Regions from separate parts of the Homo sapiens genome. Here region 1 is linked to region 2. Evidence: fine-mapped expression QTL. A gene starts in region 2. The other region holds a variant in brackets. All regions are shown on one strand. Distances are from middle to middle. Region 1 overlaps LINC02691 (long intergenic non-protein coding RNA 2691). Region 2 holds the start of LINC02691 (long intergenic non-protein coding RNA 2691).

Region 1 (15,015 bases), 23 kb after region 2:
AAAGCTAGGTGATTGCTTTGTTCCTTGTTTCTTTCACCTGCTGTTTTGTCTGATGTGCAGCCAACCTTGATAACATTGCATCTTCCTGTATAGGGGTGTGAAATAATCTCAGTGTGTTGAGTTCTTGGTTTCTCTAGCTATAGTCCGTTGGCTTCCATGGCTCCACCATGTTCCATCATGCGAACATACAACAGGCTTCTCATCCATTCTGCTGTTGATGAACACTTGGGTGGTATCTGAATTGGCTGAGTGGCCCATGCTACTGTGAACACTCTCGCCCATGTGCCCACTTGTCCTAGGGTCCCTCCCCAGGAGTGGAATTGCCAGGTCATGAGATGTGCGCCTCTTCAACCCTTTTAGATAATGCCAATCTGTTATTGTTTCTAATTAATAGACTATTTTTTTAGTCTGGACGCGGTGGCTCACGCCTGTAATCTCAGCACTTTGAGACACCAAGCTGGGCAGATCACCTGGGGTCAGGAGTTCAAGACCAGCCTGGCCAACATGGCGAAACCCAATCTCTACTAAAAACAAAACAAAAATTAGCTGGGCATAGTGGCACATGCCTGTAATCCCAGCTACTTGGGAGGCTGAGGCAGGAGAATAGCTTGAACCTGGGAGGTGGAGGTTGCAGTGAGCCAAGATTGCGCCACTGCACTCCAGCCTGGGTGACAGAGTGAGACTCCATCTCAAAAAAAAAAAAAAAAAAAAAAGAAAAGAAAAAAAGACTATTTTTTGAGCAGTTATAGGTTTACAAAAAAAAAAAAAATTCTTCCTTGAGGGTATCCGGGCAGCTCTAGGCTCTTTATGCTACTATTCACATTATACAGTCAGTTTGTTAAGCTTCCCATAGACACAGAACCAAGTGCTGTTGGGGTTTTGGGTGGAATATTATTGAACCAAAGCAATTCAGGAAGAACTGGCATCTTCACAGGTTGTATCTTCCAATACAGGAGCATGTTTTATCTTGTTATTTGGTGTTCCTTATTTCTGTCAATACAATTTTTAGTCTCAGATAAATTTGTTAGATATATTCCTAGATGCCCAATATTCTTTGATGCTTTTAAATTACATTTTTTTACTTGTTTGTTGATGTAGAAATACAATTTGAATTTGTTTTTCCTGTTTTTGTTTGTTTGTTTGGTTGGTTTTGTCTCCTGTTGCATTTTGGACACTGTCTTTAGATTGGTTTTCTAGTTTATTCATCTTTCTTTAGCTGTATAAAATCTGCTGTTAAAACTTATGCATTGGCCGGGCATGGTGGCTCACACCTGTAATCCCAGCACTTTGGGAGGCTGAGGCGGGCGGATCATGAGGTCAGGAGATCAAGACCATCCTGGCCAACACGGTGAAACCCCGTCTCTACTAAAAAAAAAAAAAAAAAAAAAAAAAAAAAAAAATTAGCCGGGCGTGGTGGCGGGTGCCTGTAGTCCCAGCTACTCGGGAGGCTGAGGCAGGAGAATGGCGCGAACCCGGGAGGCGGAGCTTGCAGTGAGCTGAGATCGCGCCACTGCACTCCAGCTTGGGCGACAGAGCCAGACTCTGTCTCAAACAACAACAACAACAAAAAAAAAAACAACTTAGGCATTGAGTTCTAATTTTTGGTTAATTTTCAGTTTTAAATATTTTTATTTGGTTCTTTTCCAAATCTTCTCTGACATGTTTTATAGTTTTCAGTCTCCTGTGATATGTTTGAATTTTTGAATCTTTTAAACTTAGCAAGCATCGTTATTTGATGTGATCTGATCTTCTGCTTATAATTCCAAAACCTGAAGTCTTTGTGCATCTGTTTCTATTGTCTTTTGTTTTTGCTGGCTCTTGATTGTGAATTTAATTTCATTTTGTGTGTGGTTATCTTTGTGTGCTAGAGATTGTATTGAAAAATTGCTTGTAAGAATAATTTGAGCCTTAGGATGATAGTTCCTCTCCTTTCCTCTCCTCTCCTCTCCTCTCCTCTCCTGTCCCCTCCTCTCCTCTCCTCTCCTCTCCTCCCCTCTCCTCTTCTGTCCCCTCCCCTCCTCTCCTCTCCTCTCCCCTCCTCTCCTCTCCCCTCCCCTCCCCTCCCCTCTGCTCCCCTCCCCTCCCCTCCCCTCCCCTCTTCTTTTCTTTTCTTTTCTTGATGAGTTTCACTTTGTTGCCCAGGCTGGAGTGTAGTGGTGTGAGCTCAGCTAACTGTAACCTCCACCTCCCGGGTTCAAGCGATTCTCCTGCCTCAGCCTCCTGAGTAGCTGGGATTACAGGCATGTGCCACCATACCCGGCTAATTTTTGTATTTTTAGTAGAGGCAGAGTTTCACCATGTTGGCCAGGCTGGTCTCCAACTCCTGACCTCAAGTATACCAAAGTCCTGGGATTACAGGCATGAGCCACGGCACCTGGCCAATAGTACCTTTCTTTAAGGATGGTGTTGGTTTGCTTTTTGCAGGTGCCTAGTGGGGCACTACCTGTCTGGAAGTATTTTACACGAAGTTTAAGCCTTGAGATTTCCTGGAGCAGGACCTCTGAAGTCACCATCACAAATGGCAGGCCCACACAAGGACTGATTTACTTCTGACTCACCCATGGCCTTCAGGCTTAGAGTTGGGGCCTTGTCGGATTCCTCTCTCTTACCAACTCTGGGCTTTGACTCTGTTGTCCCTAATGCCATGCTGATAAATAATTAATAACTGGCTCTTCATAAAAAAAAACAGTTTTGATCTGTAGCACCTGCCAATTCCCATGGTGTAAACACTCCTGCCATGGCTGACTTCAAGTTACCAACACAACATCACTGAGTGTGGGATTGGAAAAAGATGCCCATGGCTGGCTCTTAAGAGTCCTCTGAGCCTTGCTGGTTCTCCCTCACCTGCCATTGAGGGGGCTGATGGGTGCAACAGTCATTCCTGAGGCTGCAAAGTTCTTTAAAGCAGAAGCAGCTGACTCTTGCTTATGTTTTGCAGTACTTGCTGGGCTCTCAACTCCTCCAAGGTTTTGGCCTGGTAGTGCATTCTTTGCTACCTGATTTGCTCTTTTCTGCTTTAAAGAAGATTGGAAAAAAATTTTTTTTTTGAGACAGGGTCTCACTCTGTCACCTAGGCTGATCGTGGCTCACTGCATCCTCCACCTCTCAGGCTCAAGGGATCCTCCTACCTCAGCCCCCCAAGTAGCTAAGACCACAGGTGTGCGCCACCACATTAGGCTAGGTTATTATTATTTTTTTTTTGTATTTTTGGTAGTAGAGACGGGGTTTCTCTATATTGTCCAGGCTGGTCCTGAGCTCCTGGCCACGAGTGAGCCACCCACCTTGACCTCCCAAAGTGCTGGGATTATAGGCATGGGCCACCATGCCTGGCCAATTGAAATATTTTAATCCAGCTTTTCTAGTTGTGTTCAGTGGAAGAGTTGGTCCTAGTCACTAATCTGCTACTTATGGACAGAGACATCTCCTATTTTCTGTTGTAAGGACAGGAAAAAGCAGAAAATATAGAAAAGGAAATAAAGAGCAACCATCTCTCAATAGTACTGCTGCCCAACAAGAACACTGCTGACATTTGGAAACTGTTTTCCAATTTGATTCTTATTGGAAAGCATAACAACCAGCCAGGGCCTGTGCTGCTGGAGCGGGCAGTTATGTGCAGGGAGACAGCTGGTTACGGCTGGCTCCTGGCCTCGACGGAGCTTCTCAGCCTCTTGGAGCCTCTGTCCCCTCAGCTGCTGAAGGAACACATCTCCTGCACTTCTCAAGTTGCTGCCGGTGCGAAGGTGACTCCAGATTCTGCAGTTTGGGCTCCGTAGCTGCTCAGCAAATGTCAGCAGGTCCAGAAGCAAGGCTCCTCAGCTGCAGAGTGAATGCAAATGTCCCCATTGTAAATGGCCGTGGGGCCCAGGGCTCTGCAACCTTGGATGCCCAGGATCAGACCAGCTGTCCGCCGCTTTGGAATCTGGGTTTATGGGGGACCCGGGCCTCATAAATGTCAAAGCGTGCATTCTCGGCAGTCCAGGAGTCGGAAAACGTGTCTCTGAGGGGAGCATTCCTTCCATGCACACAGCTGCCTGGCTCACGTTTTTATCCTCGAGCCATAATTAGTCCTTTCCCCTGACCCTGAATTCCTGCCCCGGCCAGAAGCATGCTGTGGCCCTGGGGCCCGCGGCTCCTGGTGGTCGGTGCCCCTTCTGCTCTCCTGCAGCTGCGGCAGGTGGAAGAGCTGTCGGGGGTGGGAAGGGGGCTTGGAGGGATAAGGATGGGCTGGGGAGGGCTCCCAAGGCAGTGGACACTGTGGGCTCTGGGGACTGCATGGCTGTGGAGGGGGCATGTGCTGTTGGGCTCCCAGCCTCTTGGGGTCCTCTCTGTGCCAAGATAGAGCCTGTTACCCTCCCTGAGCAGGTGTGAGCAGACACCTGTCCCCTGCCCTGCATGGGAAGTGAACGATCCACTAAGTGGGGAGGTCAGGGTCAGATCCCCGGCCTTCCCATGCAGGATGACTGCTCAGGCCCAGGACAGTGGGTGGTCAACAGAAACCCCATCCCTGCCCATAGAGGGTGCTTCCCAGTTCACAGTGACACAGCCTGGCCTGCTCCTCTTCCAGCCACCCAAGGCAAGACACAGAGCAGGAGGCTGAGGCTGGTGTGAGGGAAAGGGGGATGCAGCAAGGGGATACCTCAACCTTGCCCGAGCTACAGACAGGTGAGGACTTCTCCCTCACCTGGTGTTTTCCACTGCATTCTGAAGAGCAGGTGACACCCACCCCAGGGTGGATCCAGGATGGATCTCTGGGTTTCCTGCCATCTACAATGACCCTCCTCATTTCCCCTGGCTAGCTGCCCCCTAGGATGGAGAATGCATCATGGTCACTGACACTTGGCGCCCTTTTCCAGCCTCAATGGCCTGGCAGAGCCAGTGGGGACACAGCAATAATGTGGGTGGCAGTAATAACAGCAGCTGAACCACCTGAGCACCATCCTGACGAGGCATAGCCTGAGCTCTGTGAACAGTGAAGTCCATCTGGTCTCTCAGTGGCCTGAGAGTGACTCTAACTATTATCCTCATTCTCTGAAGGAGGAAAACAAGGCAAGGGGATTTAAATAATTTTTAAAGGTCAGATACCTTCACAAAGGCTGAAGTGGGAGTCAGATGATAGTGTCTGGGTGGAGACCCCATACTCTTACCCTCAACTCTGAGCCATCTGCTATACAACATCTATTTGCTGAGTGGAAGGTGTGTAGCCTGAACCATGCTCACTTCTGGTCCAGAGCTCTTTCCTCAGGGCCCTGGGACATTCACGTTTAGTGTACAGTGGTATATGTATGCTGAATTCCTACATTAGGCCAGCCACATAGTCAGCACTGATTGCTAAAAGAATAACTGAATAAGGATAAATGCTTGAGGGGATGGATACCCCATTCTCCATGATGCGATTATTTCACATTCCCTGCTTGTATCAAAACATCTCATGTACCCCATAAATATATACACCTACTATGTACTCACAAAAATTAAAAATTAAAAAAGATACAAGTTAAACATCTGGCCAGTTATAATGATATGAAAAGTAATAAGGACAAAATATAAATAAAAGATTATAAGCAACAATAGCAAAAAGCATAATTGGATAAAAGGAAAAAAAAATCCCATTCCATGATGAAGAAACTAAGGTTCTAGGGAGCCAGGAAGTGGGGTCCGGGCTCCTGGCTGAGCTCTTAACCCAGAGCCCTAGCAGTTACATTTTCCACAGAAGGACAGAATGAGCACATGGGAGAGGCTTACTTGAAGTCCCCTTGCCATCAAGGGGCAAGGGTGGCACCTACCTCTCTTTGGGCAGGGCCCTGATCCTGCTGGATGGGGGCTGCCAGGGCTGCTGCTGAGCAGACTCCTAGGCTGATTCCTGGACCTGATTTTCATTGACGCTGCAAAGACCTCAGCAGAGCGCCTTTGCGCCCTGATGAGATTGACACACAGCTCAAACACACTGCATCCTTGTGGGGGTGGAGGAGATGCACAGACCCTGGCAGAATGCAAGAGAAGCCTGTTTAATGTGTCGACAGGAAGTATCAACCTGCAGCAGAATTGCAATGCAGTCTGTCCTGGGAGGCCAGGGGCTGGGCAGGCGGGGCAGGCGTTTGCCTTGCCTCGTGGGCCACTCCCAGGATGACTCCTAGCCTGGCCAGGATGAAGGCTTTGGCCAGCGTTGACGCTGTTTCCCAATGCAGAGATCACTCTGACACAGGCCAGCATTGCCTCGGAGGTGGCCCAGAGCTGGGCGGGAGGGAGACAGGCAGATAGCAGGGAAGAATGAGCCATCTCTGTCCCCTCAGCTGGGGTGCCCAGATTCAGAGGTCTCATGGTGATGGCTGCCTTCCTGGACCTACTCCTGGTTGGGCTCAGAGACTGGTCCAGGGAAGGGCCTACACAGCACTCTACAGTGCAAGAGATGCCGTCTTGGCCCTGGGGCCTTTGAGAGTCCGCCCCTCCAGAGGAGCTGGGGCCACAGGGTGCCCTGGCCGGGGAGTCAGGAGGCCTGCAGTGCCAGGGCCCTCTTGCTGGCCGTGGGGTGTGTGCCACTGTGAGCGAGCGGAAGTGTGTGCATGTGTGAGTGGGTGAGAGTGTGTGTGTTGTGCATTGATGTGAGTGTGAGAGTGTGTGTGTCCCC[G/A]AGGAGGGGACAGATGTCTATGGGAGGGCTCCGCTCTGGACTGAGAGCACAAGTCTGTGAGTCAGGACCTCCCGGAGCCGTGGTCCGGGGCTGTGTGCTTGGGGTGGTGAGAGGCCCCTGGCACCTCCAGCGGCTCCCAGTCCTGTGTGGGTCCTGCAGCCTGTGGTGCACAGGGCAGTGGGGAATGGTCCTGGGGGCCACACGAAGCCTTGGGGAAGTGCTGCATTTCCAGGCTGCAGAGGGCTTTGGGGTGCCGACTGCTGAACGAGGGGCTCCCTGCACTGCGGTCACCCTGTGGCAGTGTCGGGATGGGAGGACAGGGCCTTTGGGGGCTGCTGGGCCCTGCTCACCCTCCCTGGGCAGCCTGAGCCGGGAGGTCAGGTTGGGGGTGCTGGGCTCCCAGATTCAGCCCCAGGAGGCGTCCGGGCTGCCATGCTCACCCCGGCCCCGCCCGGAACAAGGGCTCAGAGGGAGAATGAACGGCAGCCGCCTGGTTTGCACATAATTTGTTCTGGGGCAGAGTTGCGGCTGTTAAAAGCCTCGGTGAAAAAGCCTCTGGGAATGTGACAGCCTGAGACAGGGAAAATCAGCCCAGGGTCCCTCCTCGGGTTCACACTGCTGGAACCTCTGCAACCTGCCTGGCAATTTGGATGTCACCAAAATCTGCCCTGCGGTTGGACGCTGGTGGCTGAGGGTGAGTCCACCGGGCCTGCTGAGGAGGAGAGCGGAGCAGGGCATCATGGGCAGGGGGGTGCTGGAGAGGGCTGGGGGGCATGTGGGGAGCAGCTGGCCCCTCTGGTGGCCCAGGGCACCTCTGGAGAGGGAGAGGCCTGAATGGGGGCTCCTGTCTCCACCCAAGGCTGTGGGGAGACCAGGACTCCCCACCAGTGAGGAGGGGCCATTTTTGGAGCTGCCTGCTCTGCCGAGTGAGCTTGTGGCAGGCACAAAGTGGACAAACAGACAAGCATCTGAGTGGTGGCTGCCCAGGCCTCCAGGCCCTGGGGGACAGCAGCTCCTCGCTCAGGAGGAAATGCTGTCCCCTCTGGGCAGGGGTGTCTGTATCTAAAGGAGTTGGGACACCTGGGCTCTGCCGGGGCTGGTGGCTGGGCTGGTCCGTGCCCCTCTTGGGGGTCAGACAGTGGCAGGGCCTGCAGAGCCTGGGTGTCCTTGTGGTGCTGGCAGGTTGCAGAGGGTGGTGCATGAGTTTGCGGGAGGACCACAGCCGGCGCCCACACGGCAGACGTGGGTTCTCTCATGTCATGGCTTGAAGACGGCTCAAGGCGTGGGCAGGGCTGCTTTCTCCTGAGGCCTCTCTCCTTGGCCTACGGATGGCCACCTTCCCTCTGTGTGCGTCCCAGTCTCCTCTTCTTACAAGGACCCCAGTCAGACTGTATCAGACCCCACCCCAGTGACCTCATTCCACCTTAATAACCTCGATAAAGACCCAATCTCTAAAGGCAGTCGCACCCCGAGGGCCGCCTTCAGCATAGGAAGTTGGGAAAACGTAATTCAGCCCAGGAGAGGTGGGAAGTGGGCCAGGCACTCAGGGGCGGGGATATCCAGGAGGCCTGGCTTGACCTGGCCTTGCCGCAGGCATCGCTGGTGGGCCCTCCTCAACCTCTGCCTGCAGGCTCAGGAAGTTTGTTGTGAAGCAAACAATCCCTGCGCTCCGAAGGCGCTTCTTCAGGCCGAGATCCAAAAATCTGACCCCCAGAACCTCCAATGACCAACTCTTTTTCCTCATGATGCCACCACCGTCCTCACCATTATTGTCATCGGCGTCATTGTCACCTCCATTGATTGAGCCCCTACCAGCTGCCAGGGCTGGGCAGGTTCCTTCTCACAGGTGGCCTCATACAATGCGCCAGCAGCCCTGGAGGTGGGGCAGCTGTGCCACTGCCCCATGAGAGAACAATCTGTCATGAGTGGGTTCTGCCCATGAGGACCCAGCCAAAGGGAGGTGGCCAGGATCAGGCAGGGCCAGCACCAGAGCCTCAGGCTTGGGCCTAAGCCTACCACGGGGACCCAGGCCGCCCTCTCCACAGCTCAGGGTGAGGCTGGATCTTCCTCGCTGGTGGGCACGCACGCAGGCGGGCAGGCTGAGAGGTGGGTGCTGGCCTGGTCTGCCAGGAAGGGTGGCCTCAGCTGCCCGCCCCAACCCTCACCAGTGGAAGAGAGGAACGAGGAGAGGTCATGAATGACTGGAACTGCCCTCCCGTGACCTGCCAGATGACCATCCAGGTTAAATTGAGATCTGAGTTTCATAAAAGCAAATTAAATAGACATACATGTATATTTTGATAATTAAAAGTTTTGAACCAGCCATTCACTCAAGGGTAGTTCTGGGGAATTTGTGCCCATGAGACCCTCCCCCTGGTGGGACAGAAGGAGCTAGGAGTGGGAGGCCAGGGGAGGCCTGTCTCCCTCATCCCCCATGTCCAGGGAAAGCTGTGTGGGCCTGGGCCAGCTCTCTGGCCCCATGGGCACTCTGTGCCTGGTGACAGCAGAGGTCCTGCTCTTGGGAGGCTCTGACCCCCCACAGCGGGGCTGCTCTGGGGGAGTGCTGGGGAGCTGCGGTGTCCGGGGAGGGAGCTGGGACCTGCTCCCTTGTGCTGGTGGTGTACCTGCCTGGCACCTCCCTGGCACCAAGCGTCTCATAGGACCCTGCAACAGTCCCGGCTGGGGATGCTGCCTGCAGGTTTCAATGGGGAAACTGAGGCTCAGAGGTGGGATGGGACCTGCCACCCTGTGTGACTGGCAGGACAGAGATGGGGCTGGATTGGGCCCCAGCATGGCTGGCCCTAAAGTCCCCTGCTTTCATGCTCTGACCATAAGGCTTTCCTCGTGGAGGTTGCTGGGGAGATGAGTGGGGTTGTTGCACAGGCCTCCCGGGTTTAGGCCGCACCTGGGCAGGGACCTCCCAGCAGAGATGGTCCCCCCATTTGGTGTGGAGGGACCACATGAGCAAGGCAGAGTAGGAGGTGCATTGGGGATCTCGCGGTGTAGGGGGTGGGGCCTGCAGGGGGCGGCTGGGATGGGGAATGGGGCCGAGGCCGGGGGGTGATGGTGAGGGTGGGAGTGTGAAATGGCAGTGCCCCCACCTGGGCAGCTGGAGTGCATGGCCCTGAGCATTGGGTCCTGCATGGTCCTGCGGTGGCCTGGTGGGCCCAGGAGACCAGAAGGCCTGGGCTGATCCCTGAGGGTCTGTCTGGTGGGGGTGGCCAAGGGCACTCAGGGTCATGGTGCTGCAGAGGGGGTGTCAGAGGGCAGTGTTGGCAGGAGTTCTGAGTGAGGAGGTGAGAATGCCTGGTAAAGGTGGAGGGGGAGGGAGGGGAGGGAGAAAGAGGGGGTGAAAAGGGGGAAGGAGGGAGGGAGGAGGGAGAGGGGAGGCCCAGTAGACATCCTCACCCGGGGGGCAGTGAGGGTTAGGGACCCTGCCCTGCGTGAGTGATTGGGCAGGGGATCCTGAGGGCGCTTCCAGCCCCTGCATGGTCAGGAGGTCACACGCCCACTCACCCGCTCATTCATTCATTGCGTGGTCGGGAGCTCACACGCCCACTCACCCGCTCATTCATTCATTGCGTGGTCAGGAGGTCACACGCCCACTCACCCGCTCATTCATTCATTGCGAGGTCGGGAGCTCACACGCCCACTCACCCGCTCATTCATTCATTGCGTGGTCGGGAGCTCACGCGCCCACTCACCCGCTCATTCATTCATTGCGTGGTCGGGAGCTCACGCGCCCACTCACCCGCTCATTCATTCATTGCGAGGTCGGGAGCTCACGCGCCCACTCACCCGCTCATTCATTCATTGCGTGGTCGGGAGGTCACGCGCCCACTCACCCGCTCATTCATTCATTGCGTGGTCGGGAGCTCACGCGCCCACTCACCCGCTCATTCATTCATTGCGTGGTCGGGAGCTCACGCGCCCACTCACCCCCTCATTCATTCATTGCGTGGTCGGGAGCTCACGCGCCCACTCACCCGCTCATTCATTCATTGCGAGGTCGGGAGCTCACGCGCCCACTCACCCGCTCATTCATTCATTGCGTGGTCGGGAGCTCACGCGCCCACTCACCCGCTCATTCATTCATTGCGTGGTCGGGAGCTCACGCGCCCACTCACCCGCTCATTCATTCATTGCGAGGTCGGGAGCTCACGCGCCCACTCACCCGCTCATTCATTCATTGCGTGGTCGGGAGCTCACGCGCCCACTCACCCGCTCATTCATTCATTGCGAGGTCGGGAGCTCACGCGCCCACTCACCCGCTCATTCATTCATTGCGTGGTCGGGAGCTCACGCGCCCACTCACCCGCTCATTCATTCATTGCGTGGTCGGGAGCTCACGCGCCCACTCACCCGCTCATTCATTCATTGCGTGGTCGGGAGGTCACGCGCCCACTCACCCGCTCATTCATTCATTGCGAGGTCGGGAGCTCACGCGCCCACTCACCCGCTCATTCATTCATTGCGAGGTCGGGAGCTCACGCGCCCACTCACCCGCTCATTCATTCATTGCGAGGTCGGGAGCTCACGCGCCCACTCACCCGCTCATTCATTCATTGCGTGGTCGGGAGCTCACGCGCCCACTCACCCGCTCATTCATTCATTGCGAGGTCGGGAGCTCACGCGCCCACTCACCCGCTCATTCATTCATTGCGTGGTCGGGAGGTCACGCGCCCACTCACCCGCTCATTCATTCATTGCGTGGTCGGGAGCTCACAGGCCCACTCACCTGCTCATTCATTCATTGCGAGGTCGGGAGCTCACACGCCCACTCACCCGCTCATTCATTCATTCCTCCGCGCATCATCCATTCATCCACAGTGCTCACTGTGGCCTCTGGGAGGATGCTCCCACTCTGTTGGGGGGGCCTGTGGCTGAGGAGCCCCCTCCTCAGACTTCGTCTTGCTTCCCCCAAACAGCTGCCCTGGGGCCTGCTGGGCTGGAGCCTGCAGATGGGTGTGTGGGGAGGGTGCGGGTGGGCGGGATCTCTCACGCCTATTGAGGCCCCCATGCAGGGGGTGCCGACTCCCGCCTGCCACCCACCCTTTGTCCACGGCGTTCCTGGCTGCTTTGGCTCCCTCAGCCTCCAGTCCTTTCTTCTCTTTTCACCTCCTTTTCCAATTAAGAGCCCACCCTGCCTGCCCCACAGACACCGTCAAGCCTGGCCCCATTATCCAGTCCCCTGGCGGGTGGTCTCTGCACCGTGCTGCCCTCCATACGCAGCAGCCTCTGTCTCAGGGGTCTCACTGCCCCATTGGGTGCTGCATCCTGGGGAGCGAGAGGGGCTGGTGTGACTGTGCCTGGGCCCCACACCTGGGCTCCAGCAACCCTCGCAACACCTATCCTGGCTCTGTTTGGCAACCTAAGGGTGGTGGGCCACGAGCGTCCCAGGACCTCAGAATTCCAGCTCTTGGAAAAGTGCCCAGGGCATGAAATTCCCTTTAGAACACACCCTGGGCCCACTGTCCCTCTTGGGCACTCTCAGCCCTCAAGGCTGGTGGCACTCACTCCCTGCCCTCACAAAGGCTGCTGCTCCCACCTCCTGGCCATGCCTGGGGCCAGCAGCAAGTACATTGTGGCCACAGAGCCGGGCAGTCAGGAGAGGCCAGAGTGCGGTAGCACCTGTCCCACCCGCTATTCCACAGTAGGGGACAAACGGAGCTTGGAGGGGTTCAGACGGTGTCTTGAAGGATAGAGCAGGTTCCTATCTTTGAGGACTCCTCCTCCTGCTTCCTGACTTCTGGGTGGACCTGACCATCTCCTCGTGTTGCAGAAAAGGGCTCTAAAGCCCAGTTGTACCACCTACCAGCCAGGGAACCTGGTGAAATAGACACTGTACAATGTCTTCCAGCCTTGTGCTTCTATTCTACAGACGGGCACCATTACATCACTAGGAGGAGTGAACCTGCCTCTGGCAAACAGGTCCGGCCTGCAGCACCCACGGCGGGTGGTTTCCTTTCCTACCCCACAGCCTCCCCTGGGGCCACTGTGTGCCCTGTAACCCCCTCCTTCCAGCGGCCCCACAGCTCCAGCTGTCTGGGCAGGCTCTCCTCTGACTCAGGTCGAGAGCTGCAGCCAGGCCAGGCCCTCTGCTGTGGGCACACCCGCTGGCATCACCCCTCTCACTGGGCCCAGCCACCCCTAGGCCTGGTGCCTCCTTGGACAGTGGGCATGGCTGCCCCTGGCTGCAGCTGGTGTCCTGGGGCTGGCATCCCAAAGCTCCCGCGTTCTCCAGCACCGGTGGAGAGAAAGCCCCGCTGTCCAGCCGAGTTCTGATGGAGATGGTGCCAGGCGGCTTGTGCCCTCCTCCGCCCTGGTCCTGGGGTCTCGTGGTGAAGTCAGCTGCTTTAGAAATCAGGCGGGAGCTGAGGGAGTGGAGGGCTGGGGGCCACGCCCTGAGCTTCCCTGGGTACCCCCTGACGGCTGCTCTTTAGGAGCCAGGCTGGGACTTCCAATATACCACGAGAAGCCAGCAACCTGGGCTTCGATCTGAGATCTGTTTAGAAATGTTGGCAATGAATTCAATATTTTAAAAACCAAGATGTAGTGAGGGAGGCTATGGAAAGGCTACCAGCAGGGGTTAACTGGCTGCCTGGCGTGAGATGGGGTCCAGGTGGAGGGGGTGAGAAGGGAGGGGAGCAGGGGCAGGATGGAAAGGACTGCGGTGAGGCACGCGGGTCCATCTGTGCAGAGCTGCTCGTGGAGGGGTGTGGAAGCCCACCCCATCCACCGCCCCACTGGGCCTGCGCAGTCAGGCGGTCCCCGGGAGCTGAGTAAGGGGGCTCTGAGGAGAGGGTCCTCATGACGGTTGGGGTCACCAAGCCCAGAGGAGGCTTCCAGGCAGCCAATTTCAGACTTAATTCAGGCAGCCCTCTGGGGCTGACCGAGTGCCCTTCTCGCCCGCGTTGGCGAGCAAGAGGCAGGCCCTGGTGTGCTGGTGCATCTCCTGGCGGGCTTATGAGGGGCTGGAGCCCTGGGGGACTCTGGAGCAGCCCCTCCAAAGGATGCCATGGGCACAGATGCTGTGTCTGGCTACAAGAGGCACTTGGATCCCCAGGTTTGCTGCTGTGTGTGCGTGCATGCAGATGTGTGCATATGTGTGTATCTTTGTGTGCGTGTTTCTGTATCTCTGTGTGGGTATGTGTGCGTCTATGTATATCTCTGTGTATGCCTGCATGTGTGTCTACGTGTGTGTGTGTATCTTTGTAACTGTGTGTGGGCACACAGACATATGAACGTGTGTATCCGTGTCTGTGTATCTGCCCACATGTGTCTGTATGTGCGTGGGTGAGTGTGTGTCTGTATCTGTGCATGTGTGAGTGTGTGTCTGTATCTGTGCATGTGTGAGTGTGTGTCTGTATCTGTGTGTGTGTGTGTGTGTCTGTGTTGGTTCCTTCAGCAGGGATGTCAGCTGTGGCCAGGGGGCCCGCAAGCCAGCCCTAAATTTGGGCAAATTTGGCCTGACCTAGGGAAGAAGGAAGCTGTGTTCACTGCCGCTGAGGGTGGGTGGGAGAAGGGCTGAGAGGGTGAGAACTGAGGGGCCCCAGGGGGCAACAGTTACCCTCAGTGGTGCAGGTGGGGAACTGAGGCAGAGCCAGAGGCTGGGAGACAGGAAGAGGTGGGAAGTGACCGGAGTGAGGCTGAGCAGAGGGAGCGTCTTCGTTTCATAAAAAGCCATAAATCCAGCCGAAGCTAACTGTGGAGGAAAGGGTACTGGGCCCCTCCTGTCTTCCCCGACCCCGTACACTGACCCGAGGCTGGACGAACCCTCAGTTCCTGCCCACCGAGAGCACGCATCTGTTCATGCCCCTAAAATATGGGTGCTCAGGACACTATCAGCCTTGGACAGCTGCTGTTTCCACTTGATCTGTGAAATTTATGCCGTTGGGAAGACAAATGTTCTTAGCCAGGGCTGAGGGAAGGTATGAGCAGCCCCCCTTCCCTCCTGTCCAATTTTGGAGGCTGGGAATATTGGCTTCACTCTGACAGCTCCCTGACTGGGTGGCCCAGAAACGACATATGGCTGGAGAATTCCCAGCCTGTAGGCTGAACACCTCCAGCCTTTTTTTCCTATTGTATTAAAATATACATAATCTTTATCGCTGTAAACATTTGTAAGTCTGTAATTCAGTGGCCCTGAATACACTCTCAGTGTTGTGCAACCATCACCTCTATCTATACCCAAAGCTTCTCATCTTCCCCCAACAACTCTGTCCCCATTAAATAATAACCCTCTCCCCCAACACCTCTACCCCCATTAAATAACAACCCCCTCCCCCAACACCTCTGCCCCCATTAAATAACAACCCCCTCCCCCAACACCTCTGCCCCCATTAAATAACAACCCCCTCCCCCAACAACTCTATCCCCATTAAGTAACA
Region 2 (15,015 bases):
GCAGCGTGGTGAGGTGGCCCTGGTCCGGGTGGCACTGCAGCAGCGTGGTGAGGTGGCCCTGGTCCGGGTGGCACTGCAGCAGCGTGGTGAGGTGGCCCTGGTCCGGGTGGCACTGCAGCAGTGTGGTGAGGTGGCCCTGGTCCGGGTGGCACTGCAGCAGTGTGGTGAGGTGATTCCGGTCCGGGTGGCACTGCAGCAGTGTGGTGAGGTGGCCCTGGTCCGGGTGGCACTGCAGCAGCGTGGTGAGGTGGCCCTGGTCCGGGTGGCACTGCAGCAGTGTGGTGAGGTGGCCCTGGTCCGGGTGGCACTGCAGCAGTGTGGTGAGGTGATTCCGGTCCGGGTGGCACTGCAGCAGTGTGGTGAGGTGATTCCGGTCCGGGTGGCACTGCAGCAGTGTGGCGAGGTGGCCCTGGTCCGGGTGGCACTGTGCTGGCACAGTGAGGCAGCCCTCGTCCAGGTGGTTGCAGGCTGCCCGCCCCAAGGTGGACGAGGGAATGTGACAGGAGCTGCCCAGGGCTCCCAGTGCCCCCAGGCTGTGTATACAGTGACCTCACTGGTCTGAGGCATCATCCAGGCCGGGGTTGCATATTATTTGCATATTATTTGCATCTCCGTTGGTTTCTTGGGGAAGCCAAGTCTGCTGCTGGTCTGGTGCCTGCACCTCATGACAGGTTGGGTCTGGAACCCAGGCCTTTGGCTCCAAGTTCTCTGTGATCTGCCAGGATGTGGGTGGCACTGAGCGGTCCCTGGGGAGGGAGTCAGGAGGCAGGAGCAGAAGCCAGACCAGGTACAGATGAGGCAGAGACAGTCCCCTCTGTGGGGCTGGGGTGAGCAGCTGACAGAGGTGTCTGCTGGCCTGAACTCTCATCCTCCAGACTGGGTGAGGGAGTGGAGAGTGCTCTCGGGGCCCACTGAGGACGACAGCCTGAACTCCCAGCCCTGGGCCCCCTGAAGTGAAGTGGCGGCTGGTATGCTCCCATGTCGGGGGCTCTTCCCAAGTAGGGAGTGGTCATGAAGGGGCCCCCCTGGGTCCTGGGGGCTGTGGATGGACAGACCAGAGCCCACATGGTGGCAGCGGTGATGATTTTGCTCAGCCGTTCCTCCTCACCTTGGGCTCTCTTGGGGGATTAGCCTCGTAAACAAGCAGTTCTCACCCTCTCAGGGCTCAGGGCCCTTCCCTGTCGTTCCTGATTTCCGCTCAGCCCCGGGGAGGCCTGTCTGGGCCAGTGGCAGGTCCCCTGGAGCCCGCGCCTTGGAGGGCAGTGCAGAGGCCTGGACTGCGCCTGTGGGGAGGGGAGTGCAGGGAACCGCGCCTTCGGCTGAGGGTTGGAGGCCCCGCGTTGTCCTGCTGGCTGGGGGACCTGGGGCACGTCCTGGCTCCTCCCTGGGCCTCAGTTTTCACATTTTGTTCAATGCAGGGCTGGGTGGTGAAGTCCTGGCTGAGGGAATGTGACAGGTGCCTACCCGGGCCCCTCATCTCCCAGGACTTGGGGGACTGAGGAGCAAGCATCCTCCGTGTAGACACGTGAGGCCAGGAGACACCCGCAAGGTCAGGTCTGGAATATGGAGGTTTCTGGATGACCAAGCAGCTGCTTCTTAAAAACTCTACTTTTGAAAGGGACTGCTTTGCATCAGAATCTCTCCAGAGTGAAGGGTGGACCCGCTGGTTTCTGAAGCCGCTGCAGACGTGGGTTTGCAGATTGGCCCAATCTCAGCCCCGCTGGTGAGTTGGGGCTAACAGGGCCTGGTACAGGCTGCAAGGCTAATTTAGGATCCAATGAGATGAGACGTGTAGGGTGCCCAGTGCCACCTGTGAGGCATTGCTGTTGGGAGAGCAGAATGTTCTGGAGCCATTAGGCTCCACCAGGCAGGGAGGACACCTCCTGGAAGCCTCTGACCTGCCTCATGGGTCCAGCCTGGTCTTTCACAGCTGGAAGCAGGGGCTGGCTGTGCCTTTTCACTGAAAAGGGCGGCATTTTTGTTCTTTCTTGAAAATATAAGCATTACTGTTCTTTAAAGTAGATGTAGAATTCAGGTCTTCGAGATTTTTTACAGAGGGATTTTCATAATATACATGTGACCACCAATTCTTAAACATTTACTATGCAAACTGTTTTAAAGTTAAAAAAAAAAAAAAAAAGCAAATGGTTCTGTTAAAAAAAAAAAAAGGTACCAAAAACCCGTAAGCAGCAAAGCTGGAATTCGGGCCCAGGTGTGTGGGACACTGCCTCTCTGTCTGCTCCGGTCCTTCCATGAGTCCCTGCTGAGCTGGCACCAAGAGTCCCTTCCCAGCCCCCCAACCCCCCAGGCCCCCAGCCCCTCACTGTCCTCTGGCCTCTCATTATCTCAGTTCCGCACATGGAAAATCAATAAATAGTTTGCATAGTGTTCTCCCCTCCTGCCTTTTATCAATATTTAATGACAGGCTGCGGGATGCTTTTGGTGTGCATCCTTCTGGGGCCCCTCCTAATGGGATAGCGACAGAGGTCTCTGCAGGTGCCCGGGCTCACAGATCGCCTCCTGGATGAGGCCCGGGTGGCCGCGATTGGCTGCGCGGGCAGCAGGCTTGGAGTCGGGGGAACTCGGTGATGAATTTTAACAACCTGGGAAGACTCTGGCACCGGCCGCTGTGCAATTAGCGGCCTGCGGATGTCAGGGTGGGTTCCAGATGGGAGGCGCGGGGGAGGGGGCTCCTCTTTGCCAGCTTGGCTGGGAGGGTGCACGTGGGGTAGGCTGGAGTCAGACATGGTGCGGGGCGGGGGGCTCTTCCCAGCCGTGTGTCCTCTCTCACAGACTCAGAGGGAGGTGGTATTTAATTTGGCTCAGCAGCTGCCCAGAAACCCTGACCCCTTCAGGGCTGCACATCCTATGTGAAGCGGGGTCCACCCGGCCCCCTCCCCCAATGACGTAGAAGCTGATCATCCCCTTTCAGAGTTCAAGCCTCTCTGAGAGAAGCTGACCCTGATCCGCATCCATTAGGGCGGTGGCTTTGGGCTGAAGTCCACATTGGCTGGTAACAGGGTCAGTAAATAAGGCGGCTCGGTGACAGTTCCGGAGGTACAGATGAATACATAACGTCAGCTTCCTGCCTGTCCCCATAACCAGGAGGGGTGGCAAGGCTAGCCGTGTGTGGGGGGCTCACTCAATGCTGCTGTGAGTCTCTGGGTCTGGATTCCACATCTATACGTATTTCGCCCCCGCCCCGCAGGAGGCCCAGCCTGCGGCGGTGGCTGCTTCCCCGAGACTTGAGCACGAGTGTGTGTGGGGCCAACACTGGCCAGGAAGGAGGTGGCTACTGAACTGATGACAGCTGGTCCCTCTGATATACGGAGGCTCTGGGCTTGGGGATTATTCCGCCTGTGGATTTATCGCCCTTCCGGAAGGCAGCCCAATGGGCCTGTGGGCTTGGCCTCAAGGAATGTTTGGCTTTGGGGTGAGAGGGCTTGGAGGGGGATGGGCTTGCTCCTTTGGGGGCCAGGCTCATTCCCTCGGAAGCAGGACAGCCCCGAGGCCTCCCCAGGGTCCTCTTCTGGGACAAGCTCCCTTTGTCTTTGAGGACATGGGAAGACCCCGAGAGGGAGCTGTCGTGGGCCGCCGACAAAAGCCCACTTTACACTCACCAGCTTGGCGGGAGCTCTGCGTGTGGTCCAAAGCCGTGTCCCCTCTGTGGCGGGCGGCATGGCGGGGGCAGCTGGGGCCCCTCTATCCTCCCGCGGCTGCACGTGCTTCCCTGCGAAAAGCAGGGTGAAGCGACGTCTCGGGGCCAGGACCCTGCTCTGTAGCGGGGCGGGGGGTCCTCCAGAGGGAGAGGAGGAAGGAAAGGGCGTTGGGCTGAGGGGATTGGAATCTGGGGTCACAGGGCTCTGCCAGGGCTCCTTTGCCAGCCACCTGCCCCGGCTGGGAACTCAGCCACCCTGTGTCTCTGTTCCCATCTGTATCTGGGGACTGCAGAAACTGCCTCCTAGGAAGTCAGGAACATGGGGCACACTGGGGGCCCTTTGAGTTCCCCTCTGCCCTGCTGGCTCTCGGCCCATCCTGACTCTCCCCACCGGAGCTCCTGGAGCCGACCCTGCATGGGCCCCACCCAACTCTCTCAGGCTCGGACCTGCTGGTGACTCTCCACGCTCAGGACCCACTGTCTCCGCAGGCCATCTGTGTACCCTGCATCCGCACAGGTGCCCTCCCCAGGTCCCCAGAACTCCTGCCTCTCAGGCCGGGCTGCCCCAGGGAAGGGAGCACAGCCAGGAACCCGGTCTGCAAATGAAACGCTGGTCAGAGCCTCCCCACCAGGCCACGTGGTGGGTGGCATGCAGGCTCCCTGGGCTCTTAGGCACCCCCGGTGGCATTGACAGCTGGGGAGAGAGGTGGTCTCAAGGACTATGGAGTCCTTCCTGAAAGTCTCTGCTCCTACGCAGCGGAAACGAGTGAGACTGGGAGTCAGCCCATGGCGAGGAGCTGGGGTGGGGGAACATGGGGACCCGAGACCCAGGCAAAGGCCACCAGTGCTCCCCAGGCGTGTAGCCTGAGCCTTTGGCCCCCAGAAGGGGGTGCGGTGGGGGCACCCCCTGGGCAAACCTGCAGCATAGAACAGCACAGAGGGCCGGGGCCCGGGTAGGTGGATGTGGAGAGGTGTTCCGGAGGGTCTCGGATGCTATGAAGAGATGAGAGGTGTTCAGACGCCATGAAGAGGGGGGATGCCGCCCTGTGGGTGGAGGGTGGTCTGGAAGGCCCCAGGCTGAGGGGCAGCCCTGGTGGGTGTGGGCTGGGGAAGCCTCCGGGCAGTGGCTGGCCTGGTGCCCTTGAGCTGCTCTACCCCTCATGGTACCAGGACCCTTGGCGCCCAGATGTGCTGGGAGCCTGCACCCTGCGGAGGGGGGCCAGGCCCCTCCTCCCCGCTTTGTCCTCTGCAGCCACCTTGGGCCGCCACCCTCTGACCTGCTGGGGGGTTGTCTCTGTGCGTCATCTGGGTGGCCTGAGCCCGGCTCTGATGACTTCACATGGAGCCACCTGCCAACAGAGACGCTGGCAAAGCAGCTGCTCTGGGACCTGACAGAAAAGATAAAAATGATGGAATGTTTGTTCTCTGACATGGAAAACCAGGCTCCCACATTTAGGGCAATTGGAGAAAGATCTTCCTGCTCACCTCGGAGCACAGGTGAAAGACCTGCTCTCTTGCACACCTGCTGCTCCCTGGGCCAGGCACAGCCGCCTCCCGTCTTCTGATGGTGCTGTGGCTGTGGCCTGGCTCTGCCTGCATGGAGCGTTGTGCCAGTTAGGGGGTCTCTATGGTGTCAGGGAGCTTCGGGCTCCCCTGGGCTCTGTGCACAGGCCTCTTGGTGGGGCTGGCAGGACAAAAGGAGAGGAAGAAATCGAAGTTAGTCTCAAACTGCTAGACCACAGATCCCATGGGCGGGTCATTCAATGTGGTGGGGGACAGTAGGTGGTGTGACCAAGGCCATCACACAGGGGCACCTGAGGGTGGGAACATGCGGCCAGCCTGTCCCTCAGGCCTGCCTGGGGTCCTCAACCCAGCATGGGTCAGGGAGTGCTGGCCTGCAGCCCAAGAGACGGGGACTCCACTCCTGGCCTTCTGCGTCTTTGCTTGGAAGGCTCTTATGGCTTTGTGGCCCATCCCCAAGTGCCAGCTCCTTGGGTACAGCCTCCTGTGTCAGGGTCAGTGCGGGGTCATGGCACAGGGCTGCCCTGAAGGGTGCAGAGGAGACCAAAGCCACAAGCTAGGTCTCTTGAGGGCAGCTGCCTCTCGGACCCTTCAAAATGGGTTGGGCCCTGACCCTGGTCTCGGACCAACCCTGCCCCTCCCTGCTGAGGTATAGATGGAGCTGTCAGGGACTTGGAGGCCAGCGTCTTCTCCCCCACTCCCCACTGTTGGAGGCCCCCAGCAGACTCCCTCAGTTTTCTTGCTAAGGCCTCTGCCACGCGGGGTGGTGGCTGTGCACCCTACGGCACGTGCCCTGTACAAGCCCCTCTGGGCCCCTGCTGTGGCCTTCACCGTTGGCCAAGTTCCCGCTCTGGGTCACTCTGCTGATGGCTGAGGGGGCAGGGTGTGAGGGCGTGGTCCACTCCCAGACTCCTACTCTCCCCAAAGCCCCTCCCCGACCCTGCCCTCCCGCCTCTGCAGGCAGCCTGCCGCCCCCGCCCCCACCCCAGCTGCCTCCTCCTTTCTCTGACAACCTCCTGCCTGGGGTGTCCTGGAACTGCGCCAGGGGGACCAGGTGACCTTGGACACGGCGTAGCTGCCTGGGCCACCCCCTTTCCTTGGTAATTTGCGCAGACTCCGGAGGGAGCATGAGCAGCTGAGTGCTGGGGGAGGGGCTTTCCTCTTCCTGTCTGTCATGTCCAGCCTGTGAAGAGCACGCTGGCTGAGCTGGCGAGAGGGGTGGGGGCGTCCTGGGGCTGCTTCTGCTCTGATGAAGGCACCCACTGTCACTGTCCCGGCCCTCGCTGAGTGTTCCCGGACCCGTGGGCCCGCGTCTGTGCCAGGCCTTGGGGAGCTCCAGCCTCGGAGCCTCTTCCCGTTCTCAGACCTCAGTGCGAGGAGGAAATCGGGTGAGTTGAGGTTAATGTTTCCATTAAACCTGGATGGATTTTCCCTGCGTGGAAGGAGCTGTTACGCGCCAGGGCTCTGAGCAGCATGGACGGGGCCCCAGCGCAGCCACGCTCCCGAACGAATGCCCTCCTGGGAGGGCCCGGCTGCCTGCCTGCCCCCTGTGCCTCTGCCGCCAGGCCTCGCCCTCCCTCCTCTCCTCTCTTGTGAATAAAGGGCCTCAACCCCACCTACCCGGTGTGCTGAGGGTCCTGCTATACTTAAACTGTAGTTAAAGCAAAAACAAACAAACAAAAACAAAAAAAACATGCAAAACCCCTGTGGCAACAGCTTGTCCCGTGGATATCATCTCCACTAATCCATGTCTCCTGCTCGGGGTCCTGCGGTTTCCAGGCCTGTATCTGCGGGTACTTATTTTCCATTTCCTCCCGAGAGTTTAGCCTGCTAATGAGATTTTGGTGTCTGGTATCTTGGCACATGTCTCCAAAGAGATTTATGGGGCTTCCCTCTCCTGGCCCCTCACTTGTCCTTGGCAGGAAGCTCAAGGGGTTCGATGTAATCTGCTCCAGGGCCCTGGGGAGGGGGCAGAATGTGCTGGAAGGCAGATCTGGGTGGGGTCTGCGGCCAGAAGCTGGATGTCTGCTCTGGAGGAGCCAGGCTGGTGGCGTGTAGTCTGTGGTGGCCCTGGGATAACCAGAGAGGGGTGTGGGTGGGGGGTCCCCTAGACCACCGGCCACCTCGGAGCCAGTCTACAGACTTGGTGTCTCCGCCAGCGCCAGTGATCTGAGCCGAGCGCCCCCTGCTGGTGTTTGGGCTTCCCAGTCCCACTTCACAGTGGGGGCTCCCGGCTCAGACCCACCCATCCATGCCACAGCACTCAGCCTCTGCTCAGGGGCTGGATCTGGCCGGGACCTTGGGTGCTCGGGGGCCCCATGCTCTCCAGGGACAGGGACCTTCGGCTCCACCTGCTGCCTCAGGTGGTCTCATCCATGTGGCTTCAGCCCATTTTCCAGGCAGGGGACAGAGCAGCAGTGACCACAGGGCTGTACAGACACCTGGGGCAGAAGGAGCTGTGGGCCCCTGCCTGGTCCAGAGGTTTCCAGGCCGCAAGCCTGTCCCTGGCTGCTGAACGCCGGCTGGGCTCGGCCTGGGTGGAGGAGAGGCCACAAGGCTTGGGTCAGGGAGGGCCTGACCTTGCTGTGACCTTGGGCACGTCTCCCTACTCTCAACAGAGTGGGGCTAAGAGCAGTGCTGTCGTTGGTGGGATGGAGGGAAGATGCCTCCCAGGGGGCGTTGCTGACCCATGGTGGGTAGATGCCCACCATCACCCCAGCTGCATTTCCTCCTGGGATCTGGAGACTGCTCAGAGTGAAGGTGGGTGTGACTCCCCGGGGCTGCTCGGAGTGAAGGTGGGTGTGGCTCCCTGGGGCTGCTCTGAGTGAAGGCAGGTGTGGCTCCCTGGGGCTGCTCTGAGTGAAGGCAGGTGTGGCTCCCTGGGGCAGCTCAGAGTGAAGGCGGTTGTGACTCCCCGGGGCTGCTCGGAGTGAAGGCGGTTGTGACTCCCGGGGGCAGCTCAGAGTGAAGGTGGGTGTGGCTCCCTGGGGCTGCTCTGAGTGAAAGCAGGTGTGGCTCCCTGGGGCTGCTCGGAGTGAAGGCAGGTGTGGCTCCCCGGGGCTGCTCTGAGTGAAGGCAGGTGTGACTCCCCGGGGCTGCTCTGAGTGAAGGCAGGTGTGGCTCCCTGGGGCTGCTCTGAGTGAAGGCAGGTGTGGCTCCCTGGGGCAGCTCAGAGTGAAGGCGGTTGTGACTCCCCGGGGCTGCTCGGAGTGAAGGCGGTTGTGACTCCCGGGGGCAGCTCAGAGTGAAGGCGGGTGTGGCTCCCTGGGGCTGCTCTGAGTGAAAGCAGGTGTGGCTCCCTGGGGCTGCTCGGAGTGAAGGCAGGTGTGGCTCCCCGGGGCTGCTCGGAGTGAAGGCAGGTGTGACTCCCCGGGGCAGCTCAGAGTGAAGGCAGGTGTGGCTCCCTGGGGCTGCTCTGAGTGAAGGCAGGTGTGGCTCCCGCGGGCTGCTCAGAGTGAAGGTGGGTGTGGCTCCCAGGGGCAGCTCAGAGTGAAGGCAGGTGTGGCTCCCGAGGGCTGCTCAGAGTGAAGGCGGGTGTGGCTCCCGCGGGCTGCTCAGAGTGAAGGTGGGTGTGGCTCCCAGGGGCAGCTCAGAGTGAAGGCAGGTGTGGCTCCCGCGGGCTGCTTAGAGTGAAGGCAGGTGTGGCTCCCTGGGGCTGCTCTGAGTGAAGGCAGGTGTGGCTCCCGGGGCTGCTCTGAGTGAAGGTGGGTGTGACTTGCTTCAGATCTCATTGACGTGGATCTTGGGCAAGTGGTTTTCACTCTCTGGAGCCAGTTTTCTTACCTGGGAATTGGGTTAAATCCCGGTGGCCTTGGGCTGTGGTGGAAGTTAGACAGGACAGCCACATGCCACACACCTGACAGCCTGACAGATGTGTCACTGATGGTCACTGGTGGGTTATGTGGGGCTACTCCTCTGCCTCTGACTCTAGGATCCCATTAGTTGTTTACCAAAGTAGCATGTCCACCAGGGTCCTTCTGGGTATACGGCTTGCTTCCAACTCTCTCACTGATATTTTAGGTCCGCTAACACTTGGAGAAATCTTTTGGTGTGAATTATTCTCAGCAGCTGCAGGGCACCCTGGTTCACTTTCCCGTTTCTCAAGCTCCAATGGTGCCCGACACTGTTTCCTGGGGAGGAAGCTGATGTGCCTTTAGGTGGACGCCTGTGTGAGGCTAGCCCGGGCCGAGCTGGAGCTACCAGCCTTCTGCGGGCATGCATGCCTGGCCTGCCTCAGCAAACACACGATAAATCCATTTCCCCAGGCCGCCTGCTCCCACTTCCCAGATAGCCGGGCTCATACTCACATTTATGTTTCATTTTGTCTGGCTAATATTGTCTTAGATAAATTAGGGGGAGCAGATTAGTGTTTGATTTAGTGGTAGGAACTCCGATGAGCCTAACGTTTCGTTTTAGTGGTGCCGGGGATGGGATGAGGGTCCCTGGTTCCTCATAGCCCTTGTGGTGGTGGCTCCTGAACCAGGAGGGGTCATTTGCATGGGCCCAGGCTCTCAGTGCAGACCCAGCAGGTCTCTCTGGCCGCTGGGACAGTGGTCAGATGAGGTGGCCCCTGTGGGGCCTGGGGGCACAGAGGTGCCACAGTGAGCCAGCCTGGCCCCTTGCTAGCAATAGGCTTGTGCTAGAAGAAAGACAGAACTGACCTGCAGGTGTCAGCAGCTGAGCCTCCTTGTCCTCCCTCCTCTGCACGCTTTCCTGTGCCTGTGTTATTAAGGGGGCCAGGCCAGGAAGTGCTAAATTAGTTATGAGATGCAGGGCTCCAGGGATTCAATGGGGTTGTGTCCTCGCTTCCTGTGCATTTCCTGTGTGCTGGGCATGGCCCAGAGAGACTCACAGACAGAGGCCTGCCCTGGAGACTCCCAGGCTGCAGTGGCCAGAGAAGGATCCCAGGGGTCTTATGCTTGTGCAACTTTGGGGGGTCTTCTTTAAGAAAGAAAATTTAAAAGTAGAAATATCTAATTGGTTCTAGGCCTTGCAAGAACCCGTGTCAGTGGGGGCTTTGCGGCTGAGCTTTCATTAGGGGCTGAATGAATTGCCCCATGTAGGGCCGTCAGCCTGATGAGACCATCACTGTCTCCAGGGATGGGGACTCACAGGTTAACAGTGACAGAAACTCTCACAGTAGCTGGGGCTGAAGGATTTGCTGGATGAGACCTGGGCATCCTGTGGAATCTAAGGATGGTTGAATCCCCAGGATGGGAGGCAGCTGGGATTTAGGGGCCACCAGGGCCAAGGCCCAGAGGTCTCCTTCCCAGGTCAGGCCTCAGCTCTCTCACTGGTTTGTTCCACGTGTGGCAAATGTGTGGCTGGAGGCTCCCCAATTTTGCACCTTACACCTCTGGCCACCAGAGATAAATTGACTTTTGTTTCCTAGTTCAAGTTCCAGTAACCCTGGAAAAGTGCTCTGATTGGCCCAGCCTGAATCAGGTGGCTCCCTTAGGATCACTCAGCTGGGGCCAGGGCAGTGGGGTCACAGTGCACTAACCTAGCAGGTTTGCAATAGCTGTGGGGTGGAGAACAGGAAGTAGTTCCTGGAAAGGGGTAAGTCATACTGATCTCCTTTCTGACTAAGCCAAGGCTACTGTGGGGGCTCAGAGGAAGGTGTGACTTAACTCTGCTTTGAGAACAATGGACAGTTTCGTAGAGGTTGGGCCATTTGGGCTGAGTCTTGCAGTATCAATAGGAATTCACTAGGCAGAGCTGGAGACTAAGGTGACTCTAGGGGGAGGCATGGAGAGGTAGAATTGCTTGGGAAGAGTAACTTGTTCAAGGTGATTGGAGCGTAGACTTTGGTGGTGGCAGGAGGGTGGAGTGAATGGGCAGGAAGCTGGGTACGAGGTGGAAAGGCCTTGGACTTGACTCTAGAAATACTAGGAAGCCACCAGAGGGCTTGAGCAGAGGTGACGTGACCAGATCCTTCCTGTGTTCCTGTGAGGATGGGTAGACAGGGCCCCCTGGGAGCTCACAGAGGTGGAGTACTTTGCCCAAGGTGGCGAGAGGGGACGCCCGCAGCCTGGGTCCCAGTGCAGCCCTTGTTCCCATGGGTCCAGATTCCTGAGCCTCACCCACCCCTCCCTCACCACTGCCACCTGGCCAGTAGCCACAGGTGGCTTCCAGAGCACTCTCTTACCGTCCCCCAGGGTTTTCTGGGTACTGACCTTCTCTCTCTCACTTGGGATACCCACCCCTATCAGGGAAATCAGGGGAGGCACTATTGTCTCCTTTACAGAGGAGTAAACTGAGGCTGGGTTAACATTACTTGTTCAAGTCACTCAGCTAAGACGGGCAGTGCTGGGATTTGAACCCAGCTCTGCCTGGCTTCTGAGCCTGAGCTGACTTCAGTGCCCGGCCCCCAGATCTGCACACCAGTGTGCCCCAACTGCCTGGTGAGTGGCCAGGCCAGAGGGAAGCAGGGAGCAGGGTGGGCCCAAGGCGAGGCTCAGCGAGAAGGCAGGAGCAGTAGCCGTGGGGCAGCACTTGGGGTATGTGGGCCATGGGGAAATGGGCACCAGGGGTAGAGCCCCTTTGGGGGGCTGTGGAGGGGGAGCAGCGGGGAGTGCAAGGGGATGTGACACAAGCCCCTTCTGAGGGAGGACTTGGTGGCCGGTTGCTCTTGAGTGGTGCCTGCCTCAAGGCCTGGGCTGTGTCCTGCCCTCCTGCTGCCCCGGCCACCTCTGACAGACCCTGCTAACTGTGGTCAGCCTGGCAGGGCTGGCATGGCAGAGCAGGCCTGTGGTGCCACCCTGACCTGGCCACTGTGGTCCTTATCCTGGGTCAGGAGCCGTCCCCGCCCCAGGCCCATGTTTTCCATCTGCCGGGGACCCTGCCCAGGAGGGGCACATGTAATGCTAGCCTCGTTGTGCAGGGCGGCTCCTGGCTGAGGCCTTGACTGAACTTGCATCTACATTTAGACTGAAATGCACCGAGAGGCTGGGCCTGCTGTGTCCCAGGGGCTGCGGACGGGGTGTCCATCCTGCCTGGGTAGGATGCATCTGCAGGGTGCCTCCCACCACACGCTAAAGTGGGGTCATCACCCCTGGGTGGCCTGGGTCACCAAGATGCTACCCCACCCAGCCTGATGGGATGCCTGAGCTCCAAGCCTGCCCCCTCACAGGGGAGATGATGGCCCCACGAAGGCCCCCCTGGGTGCTTGTGGTGGCCGCTCACTCAGTCTCTCTCTCTCCAAAGCGGCCTGCCCGTCCGCGAAGTCACTTAGCTGGGATCTAATCGGGTTTCACAGGGGCATAAATTACTTGGCTAGAGGTTGTTCCCGGGTGTTTCCACCCCGGGCCTGTTATTTACACACCGTGCGGTAATGTAGTCACGGCCTTGGGTGCGCAGTATTTATGGTGTTTGATCGGCTTCCAGCCCAGGCCGCCTGTCCAGGAACATTTGTTGAGATGTTGTGCAGAGCCGCTGGGGACCTCTGCCACAGGCGGGCATCAATCTACCTGGAGCTCCTGCGGCAGCCCTGCAGAGCCTCAAAAGGGCAGGGCGGGCCTGTGGTGCCACCCTGAGCTGGTCACTGTCTGCAGATGGCAGCTCTAGGAGTGATGGCTGAGGACGAACAAGGGTGCGAACTGTCACTGACATTTCCGTGGGGCGTGGACGTGACACATCCCGAATGCCATACCTGGCTGTGGACAGTCGCACCGTTAAAGGCAGCAGCGCTAACTGCCGTTCACGGAGCACCCACTGTCTGCTAAGCTCAGTGGAAGATCCTTTGTTTTATTCTCTCCGTGAGTGCTTGTCGCAGCCCTGCAAGGTAGGTGTCCCTGATGGGAAACTGAGGCTCAGTCACTGCAGGTGACTTCCCAAAGGAACACAGCCTGGGAGCTCCATGTGGCAGCTTCCTCTGGCTCTTACAAGGGGAAGGATGAGCTCCCGTTGGTTGCTGGGGTCCCGCCCCTTTGCCTTCATGTCTGTGATGGTGGAAATGCTTCATAAGGAGTGTAAAGTGGTTTTTGTTCCCGACCCAGAGAGATCTGGTCACGGTAATTCTGTATCTGCTTGCCTATATTTATCCCCCAAGTCCGGCTGGTGACAGGGAAGCAGATGATCAGTGCCAGGCCTGATAAATTGGACCCAGGGCTGAGGCGGGAGAGAAACCCTGTTTTATTGTTGAAGACAAAGCCGTCGGGCAGGAGGCATATGTTGTGTTGGAGCCCTCGCTGCGACGGAGGCCCTGGGCCTCAGAGCAATCAGGGCTTTCACGAGCACCCCCCACCCACTACCTACGTGGGAGGCAAGGACCCCCATTAGCCCGGCTGGCTGTGGGGGAGGGGCTGACAGAATGTCAGTGGGGTGGAGGGGAGAGGAGGTGATCAATGAGGACTTATTGACTTGCATCTTTCCCCACGACTTGATTAAGACCACTATGGAGATGAGGCCTGAGGAGGGGGCTAGGGCCAGAGCCCCGGGCCAGTGTGGCTTAGGGGATCTTTTATGTTTGGAGGGCAGGAAGGGAACAGAGAGCTGCCGGCTTTGTCAGATGCCTGAAGAGTATTGATCCATATTAGAAATGATAATGAGCCAATTCTGCTGGGCTGGGAGGCCTTAACCATTTCATTGCTTACAAGGCTGTCCTGGTGGGGATGTTGGAGGAGGCTCAGCCTCTAGCTGCTCCTCACCATGTTTCTCCTCGCTCAGGTCTGCAGCTTCCCAGGCCACGACCTGAGTCCACTGATGGTCCTGGAGGTCTGGCCAGAGGGGCAAGGGCAGCAAAGGAGAGGAGCACAGGACTGGGAGCTGGAGCCTGGTTCTGGGATTGGCTAGACCCTGCGGGGTTTGCCAAGCACCTGGTGGGTGCCTGACATTCTGTGCATCTCCTCGGGCACCTCTAAGGTGGTCAGGATGACCCTTACTGCTATAATGACAGATGAGATGAAGGCATGGAGGCTCATAGTTGCCAAGAGGCCAGGCCTCTGCCTGCCCCTCCAGCACTCTGGGACGTGATGCTGCCCCTCAGACCTGCCACTTGCTGATGGAGCTTTGACTTTTGTTGAGTCATTTACCCCATCTGGGACCCACTTTCCTCATCTGTAAAATGACAACCACAGCAGGCTTGCTGAGATAATTCAGAGAACAATGACAAGGGCTCATACAGTCCAGCCCTGCACCAGCACTTGGTGGTGGGGCCTGGCCTGAGCCTAAAGCTTGACTCTAGCTCTGTGTCCACTTTAGTGAACATTTAAAGTTGAGGAGTCTGAGTTTGCTCCTCCATGGAGGGAGGACATGCCATTCATCTTTCTAAATGGTTGTGAGAATCAAATGAGTCTATGCATGGGGAGTACCTAACATGTAGTTGGTGGTTAACAGAAGATGGCTGTCATCATTGTCATTGTCACCATCACCATAATCATCATATCACCATCACAACACCCTCACCACCATCATCATTACCATCATGATCATCACTGTCACATCATCACCATCATTACCATCATCATTACCATCACCATAACACTCCATCAACATCACCACCATCATCACCATCGCCATTACACTCCATCATCAACATCACCACCATCACCATCACCACCACCATCATCACCATCACCATTACACTCCATCAACATCATCAACACCATCATCATCACCATGACCATCACCCCATCATCATCATCACCATCATCACCGTCACCGTCATCATCACCATCACCATTACACTCCGTCATCACCACCACCATCATCATCACCATCACCATTACACTCCATCATCACCACCATCATTACCATCACCATCATCACCATCATCATCATAATCAATATTATCACCATCACATCACTCTCACCACCATCATCACCATTACCATCAT

The links. PIP is the estimated chance that this variant, and not a neighbour inherited with it, causes the effect.
Region 1: its variant is fine-mapped to the expression of LINC02691 in lung (GTEx, PIP 0.92).

The regions. Positions count from the first base shown.
Region 1 is chr14:104,240,673-104,255,687 of GRCh38, forward strand. All of the region lies in intron 1 of LINC02691 (long intergenic non-protein coding RNA 2691), which reads left to right. Among named protein-coding and RNA genes, the nearest start is that of LINC02691, 25 kb to the left of the region's middle. RefSeq lists an enhancer at 1-9. The variant G/A (reference allele first, on the strand shown) is at 6,626.
Region 2 is chr14:104,217,250-104,232,264 of GRCh38, forward strand. LINC02691 (long intergenic non-protein coding RNA 2691) reads left to right here and starts at 6,335. Exons shown (of 3, transcript NR_146612.1): 1 at 6,335-6,567. RefSeq lists an enhancer at 5,297-6,189.